2 separate regions of the Homo sapiens genome follow, and region 2 is linked to region 1. The links come from fine-mapping of genetic effects on gene expression. Tissue or cell type: blood mononuclear cells. Region 1 holds a variant in brackets; the other region holds the start of a gene. All regions are shown on one strand. Distances are between the middles of the regions.

Region 1 (2,915 bases):
AACTTGCAGAAACATCAAGAGATTAGGGAAATTTTAATCCCTTGGTCACTACAGCATCACAGTGTCTGTTTTGCCATCACTTTTTTGGACACAGGAGGCTATATATGAGTGTGGGCGTGCCTATGGGTATGTCTGTCTGACTCTTCCCTACCCAGGATAACTCTGGCTAAATCCAAATTTGTATATCCAATAGTCCTTCTTTCTCCCTCTCACTCTATTTTTTTTTTTTTTTTTGAGACAGAGTCTTACTCTGTCACCCAGGCTGGAGTGCAATGGCATAGTCTAGGCTCACTGCAACCTCCGCCTCCCAGGTTCAAGTGATTCTCCTACCTCAGCCTCCAGAGTAGCTGGGATTACAGGTGCATGCCACCACACCCGGCTAATTTTTGTATTTTTAGTAGAGACGGGGTTTCACCATGTTGGCCAGGCTGGTCTCAAACCCCTGATCTCGTGATCCATCCGCCTCGGCCTCCCAAAGTGCTGGGATTATAGGCATGAGCCACCATGCTCAGCCTCATCCTTCTTTCTCTAGGACTAATGCCAGCAAGTTCCAGGACTTATAACATGTGCTTAACATCAGAGAAGTCTTCACCAGGTGGTGATGTCCTTAAGATGTCTTCCTCATTTCAAAAGCTTTAAGTTAGAAATGTCACTAGATCTTAGATAAGGCCATATGCTACTTGTAACCTCCTGAAACCTGTCTGTCTGAAACCTGAAGGAGTGGTTCTTCAGCTCCCCCTCAAAGACTTAGGAATTAAACTTGTCTGAATTGTACACATTGTGAGTGAAATAGTGCCACTGGAAAGTACTTTACTGTTGAACTCAATGCACCCTGTTATTTGTCAAATTGGTGTTATTTGACTCGTTACAAATGGAAATGCTTTTATGCTATGATGGAAGTGTTATTTGCATTTTTGTTACTAGTCTTATTTTTAAATAATTTTTCAATAGGTAACACAGTCATTTGGTTCAAAAATAAAGCCTGCTTCCCAAGTAGTTATTAGTTTTTAACAATCTCTTCTAGAATTTCATTTCACACACATAAGCAAAATATATATATTCTCATTCCCTTCCCCATTTCTCTACATAAAATTGAGCTTACTTGATGCATTGTTACACATCTTGCTTTTTTTACTTAACATGACATCTTGACAATCTTTTATATCAGTTATTTTTAATAACTGCATGTTTAACTTTTTACTTTGAAATAATTACGGATTCATAGTAAATTGCAAAGGTACCCTTCACCCAATTTTCCCTAATATATCAACACCTAGTTTTTAAAATTGTAAGTTAAAATAACAGTAGCGAAACACTTTCAGCACTGCTCTTTTTCTTTCTTTTTAGTCAGGGTTTCCCTCTGTTGCCCAGGCTGGA[C/G]TGCAGTGGCTCGATCCTAGCCCACTGCAGCCTCCAACTCCTGGGCTGAAGCATTCCTCCTGCCTCAGCTTCTTCCAATAGCTGGGACTTCAGGCATGAGCCACCACACCCAGCTAATTTCTGAATATTTTGTGAAACCAGGGTCTCACCATGTTACCAAGGCTGATCTTGAACTCCTGGCCTCAAGTGATTCTCCTGCCTTGGCCCCCCAAAGTGCTGGGATTATCGGTATAAGCCACCATGCCTGGCCCACTTTTAGCACTGTTCTAAGTGCTTTGCATAGATGAACATTAATAAAAATGTATCACCCCCATATACAGATGGGGAAACTAAGGCACAAAGAGGATAAAGAACGTGTCCAAATAACAGAGATAGTAATTAATGAGGCCACGTTTTGGACCTGGGGAGTTTGGCTTAAAAGTCTGTGTTCTTAACTCTTAGATAAGACTACATTAACTCCTTTGAGTAATGGGTGTTCATAGTTAAGCAAAAGCAAACAATGATGTGAAGGGTTGAAAGTGTAATCATTCAATTCTTTTGCAGACTTTCATAAATGTACTGTGTTCATGCATGCGATATATTTTAAGACAATACTGTTTTAAAACTTTTTTAATAGTTTTAATATTGAACTTTCTGTATCAATATAATCTCCTACATCATTCTACATATCTGCATCATTTTCTATGACTCTTCCTTAGTTTATTACAGATAAATGTTTGTTTTCTTTTTATTATAATAACTGGTGCAGAAAACATTCTTGCACATGGATTTCTGCTCATTTATATGAGTGAATCTACATCATAAAATCCTGGAAGCGGAATTGCTGGCTCAAAGGTATGTGTGTTCTATACTTTAATGGAAACCGCCAAATCCCCCTTCACAAAGATGGCTGCAATTTATGCTTCTGACCTCACTTTCTGTTCCTAATTACCTCTACAGCCTCTATTAGGGAATTCTTTATAATAACCAGAGACCTAAATTGAACCAAATAAGTCCCAGAAATGTGAGCCTTTGTACTTAATAATTTATGTCTCTCCTGTCAGTTTCACTGTAAAAAATAAAATTTTTTGTTATTCAAAACTACAATTGTGTTAAAGCAGCCATCTTACTATATAGTTGTAATAGTTGGTACTGAAAGTTTTTTTTTTTTTTTTTTTGAGACAGGGTCTTGCTCTGTCACTCAGGCTGGAGTGCAATGGCACAATCTTGGCTCACTGCAACCTCCACTTCCCAGGTTCAAGCAATTCTGCCTCAGCCTCCCAAGTAGCTAGGATTACAGGCACCCGCCATCACGCCCAGCTAGTTTTTTGTATTTTTAGTAGAGACGGGGTTTCACCATGTTGGTCAGGCTGGTCTTGAACTCCTGACCTCAGGTGATCTACTCACCTCGGCCTCCCAAAGTGCGGGGATCACAGGTGTAAGCCACCGCACCTGGCCTTGAAAGTTTTTATAGTCACAGAAATGTTCATGTAAATGAGATGTTTATAACGAATGTTAAAACAAGAAACATTTTTTTAATCACAAATTCACTATTTATT
Region 2 (2,864 bases), 68 kb before region 1:
ATGCCTGGCTAATTTTTTGTATTTTCAGTAGAGACGGGGTTTTGCCAAGTTGGGCAGACTAGTCTCCATCTCCTGACCTCAGGTGAACTGCCTGCCTCGACCTCCTGAAGTGCTGGGGTTATAGGCGTGAGCCACGGCACCCGGCCTAGGCTTAGTTTTTTGTAGGTACTAGAGTATTTGTTTCTTTAGCCAGAATCCACTGATATTTTAGTCTTCTGGTTCTCAATCTTGGCTTGCTTTTGCAACTACCTCTTGAACTTTAAAAAATTCTGCTCCAGCCTGGGCAACAGAAGGAGACTGTCTCAAAAAATATATGTCAATAAGTAAATATCCTGATGCCTGGATCCCACCATGGGACATTCTGATGTAACTGGCCTGCAATGGTGTCTGGGCATGGGGATTTTTAAAAGCCCCAGTGACTAATATGCAGCAGAGTTTGAGAACCACTGGTTTAAAGGACTTTGTCCTACTCTGACAGCGTCTAGCACAGTGCCTGGCAGAGACTGATGCTCAGAATGAACAAACTAAGATTCTATTTGTCAAGGAGGAGAGCATTGTGTTACTCACAAATGCAAACAAACCACAAGCAAGGGATAAGTCAGGCCCTGGGCAAAGACAATGGTAAAGCAATTCCTGCCAAGTAAGCGTGTGAGGGTGACACCCACTGAATGCAAGCTGTTGTTACCTTTTTCCCTTTATTTTTATGTATTTATTTTTTGTTGAGACAGGGTCTCACTGTCCTTCAGTCTGGAGTGCAGTGGCCCTATCCTGGCTCACTGAAGCCTCGACCTCCTGGGCACATGCAATTCTCCCGCCTCAGCCTCCTGAGTAGCTAGGACTATAGGTGCGTGCCACCATGCTTGGCTAATTTTTTAAATTTTTGTACAGAGGGGTGGGGGGTCCTAATTATGTTGCTCAGGCTGGTCTCGAACTCCTGGGCTCAAGTGATCTTCCTGACTCGGCCTCCAAAAGTGCTGGGATTACAGGTGTGAGCCACTGCACCAGGTCAAGTTTCTATCTTGACTCTAACTAGAAAAGGTGTCATCCTTGAAATGCAGGTACTGTTCAGCCAAATTCCAAAGTCCTCTGAAGATCCAAGTTCTCTAAGAAGTTCAGAGGTGCCAGGCTGTGTCTTGTTTGTGCAAATGAAACAGAGGATGACAAGGTCGGGTGGGCATTTCGAGCTCTGCCCCAAGTCTGGTCGGCTTGAGAGTCAACCTAGGAGCCTCTCTCGGCTCCAAATGGCAATGTGGCAGCCCTTCCCGAGTAGGGAAAAAGGAGCGTGTAGGGGGCACCACGGCAAGCTGGTTGGGTCTGCTCCACCCATGAGGATGGAGTGCAGCCTCCACCGGGAACCAGGGGCGCGAGTCGCTGCTCAGTGGCCTGGGCCTGCATGTGGCGCGGCGGGAGCTGCTGCCTAGGGCCGCGCAGCGACGGGGGGTGAGGACTACATGTCCCGACGTGCCTCGGGCAGGGCGGGGCGGTGCCGGAGCCGGGCCTGGAGGCCGGCCGGGGCCAGGCGTGCGCAGTGGTTCTTGGGAGTGGCGAAGCGGGTCCTGCCCCGCTGTCAGCTGCGGCCCCCGGCGCCGGGCGGGGGTGGCCGCGACCATTGGCGGAGAGGCGAAAGGGGCGGGGCCGCCGCCAGCCGCTGCGGGCAAGGCTGAACAGGCGGAGGTGGGCAGCCGGCCAGGGAAGCACGGTCCAGGCGGCTACATTCGGCCCGGCCATGGCAGCGGCGCCCCTGAAAGTGTGCATCGTGGGCTCGGGGAACTGGTGAGCGGCGGCGGGCTGGAGGCCGGGGCTCCGCTTCCAGGAAGCGCCTCTCCCGGGCGGTGAGGGCTGCGCGCCCCATGCTGCGGCGTGGGCACCGGGCACTGCGCGCAGGGAGGCGGGGTGGGCGACCTCGTTGCTGGGCTGGGCACCGTGCGCCCGAGGAGGCCGCACCGGGGCACTCGCTCGGGAGGCGCTGGGCTCGCGTGCGTGCGGGGGACAGCGCGGAGAGAGGGCACCCCGAGCACGCGGGCACCTGTCTGCGCCCCCGTTACTGAGCGCACAGAAGCCACCTGCTTGCCACGCCTGGGTGTTTTGCACAATATCCTAAGGGCGTATTCCGTTCTCCACGGCGGATCTCCTGGGTCAAGGACTTGGTGGAGGCTCGAGCATTCTTACTGCAGTTTCGGTGTTGAGGAAACCGAGGCGGAGAGGGCTAAAGGGCTCTTGCTGCCCAGGTCACGGGCGGGGCATGCTCTGCCCTTCAAGGTGCCCGTCTCGCCCCCGCTTCTGATAGGTCCACTATCTTAGGCGCGTCGTATCAGGAAGAAAATCCAAGTTTCAACAGGCCGCTCTCCCTGAGGCGTTGAGAATTCTCCCTTGCCGAGATGTTTGCGAAGCTTTGCGTCTCTTTGGGGCCTTATTTGACTTTAACATTTTATAGAGCACATTAGAAATGTCAGTTCTTCTAGTACCCTTAATCAAACGTACACTGTGGGATTCTCTGGTGTGTTTGGGTGAATGTAGAGGTGGGGGTGTGAAGGGGGAAGGAAGCAAAGTGTAGCATCTGGTGTTTCCAAGCCTTTTTTCATTGCTGTACACTCTGCCACATTGGAGGGACTGGTGTACAATAGTTAAGAGTGATGATGTCCTTTCAGTGCTTCTGTTTACCGGTTTTTCTGTGGCGTGACAGGCATCAGAAGTGCTGCAGCAGCTGGTCCTAGGTAGTTGGTCTTAGTTTTACTCTTTCAAGACTTGGCCCAGAAAGTACTTATTGAAGGAAACCTTACCTGGTTCTTCACTTTTCCATCCCAGCAAGGCCAGTGGCCTCTCTCTGTGTCCCTATTGCTGGCCTGCATCACTGCATTATAAGG

What was found.
Region 2: GPD1L starts here. The variant in region 1 is fine-mapped to the expression of GPD1L in blood mononuclear cells (TOPMed, PIP above 0.99).

Annotation. Positions count from the first base shown.
Region 1 is chr3:32,172,792-32,175,706 of GRCh38, forward strand. No RefSeq gene overlaps it. Among named protein-coding and RNA genes, the nearest start is that of CMTM8, 64 kb to the right of the region's middle. The variant C/G (reference allele first, on the strand shown) is at 1,378.
Region 2 is chr3:32,104,986-32,107,849 of GRCh38, forward strand. It overlaps GPD1L (glycerol-3-phosphate dehydrogenase 1 like), which reads left to right and starts at 1,635. Exons shown (of 8, transcript NM_015141.4): 1 at 1,635-1,773. The coding sequence starts at 1,727. RefSeq lists silencers at 1,368-1,777, 1,898-2,037.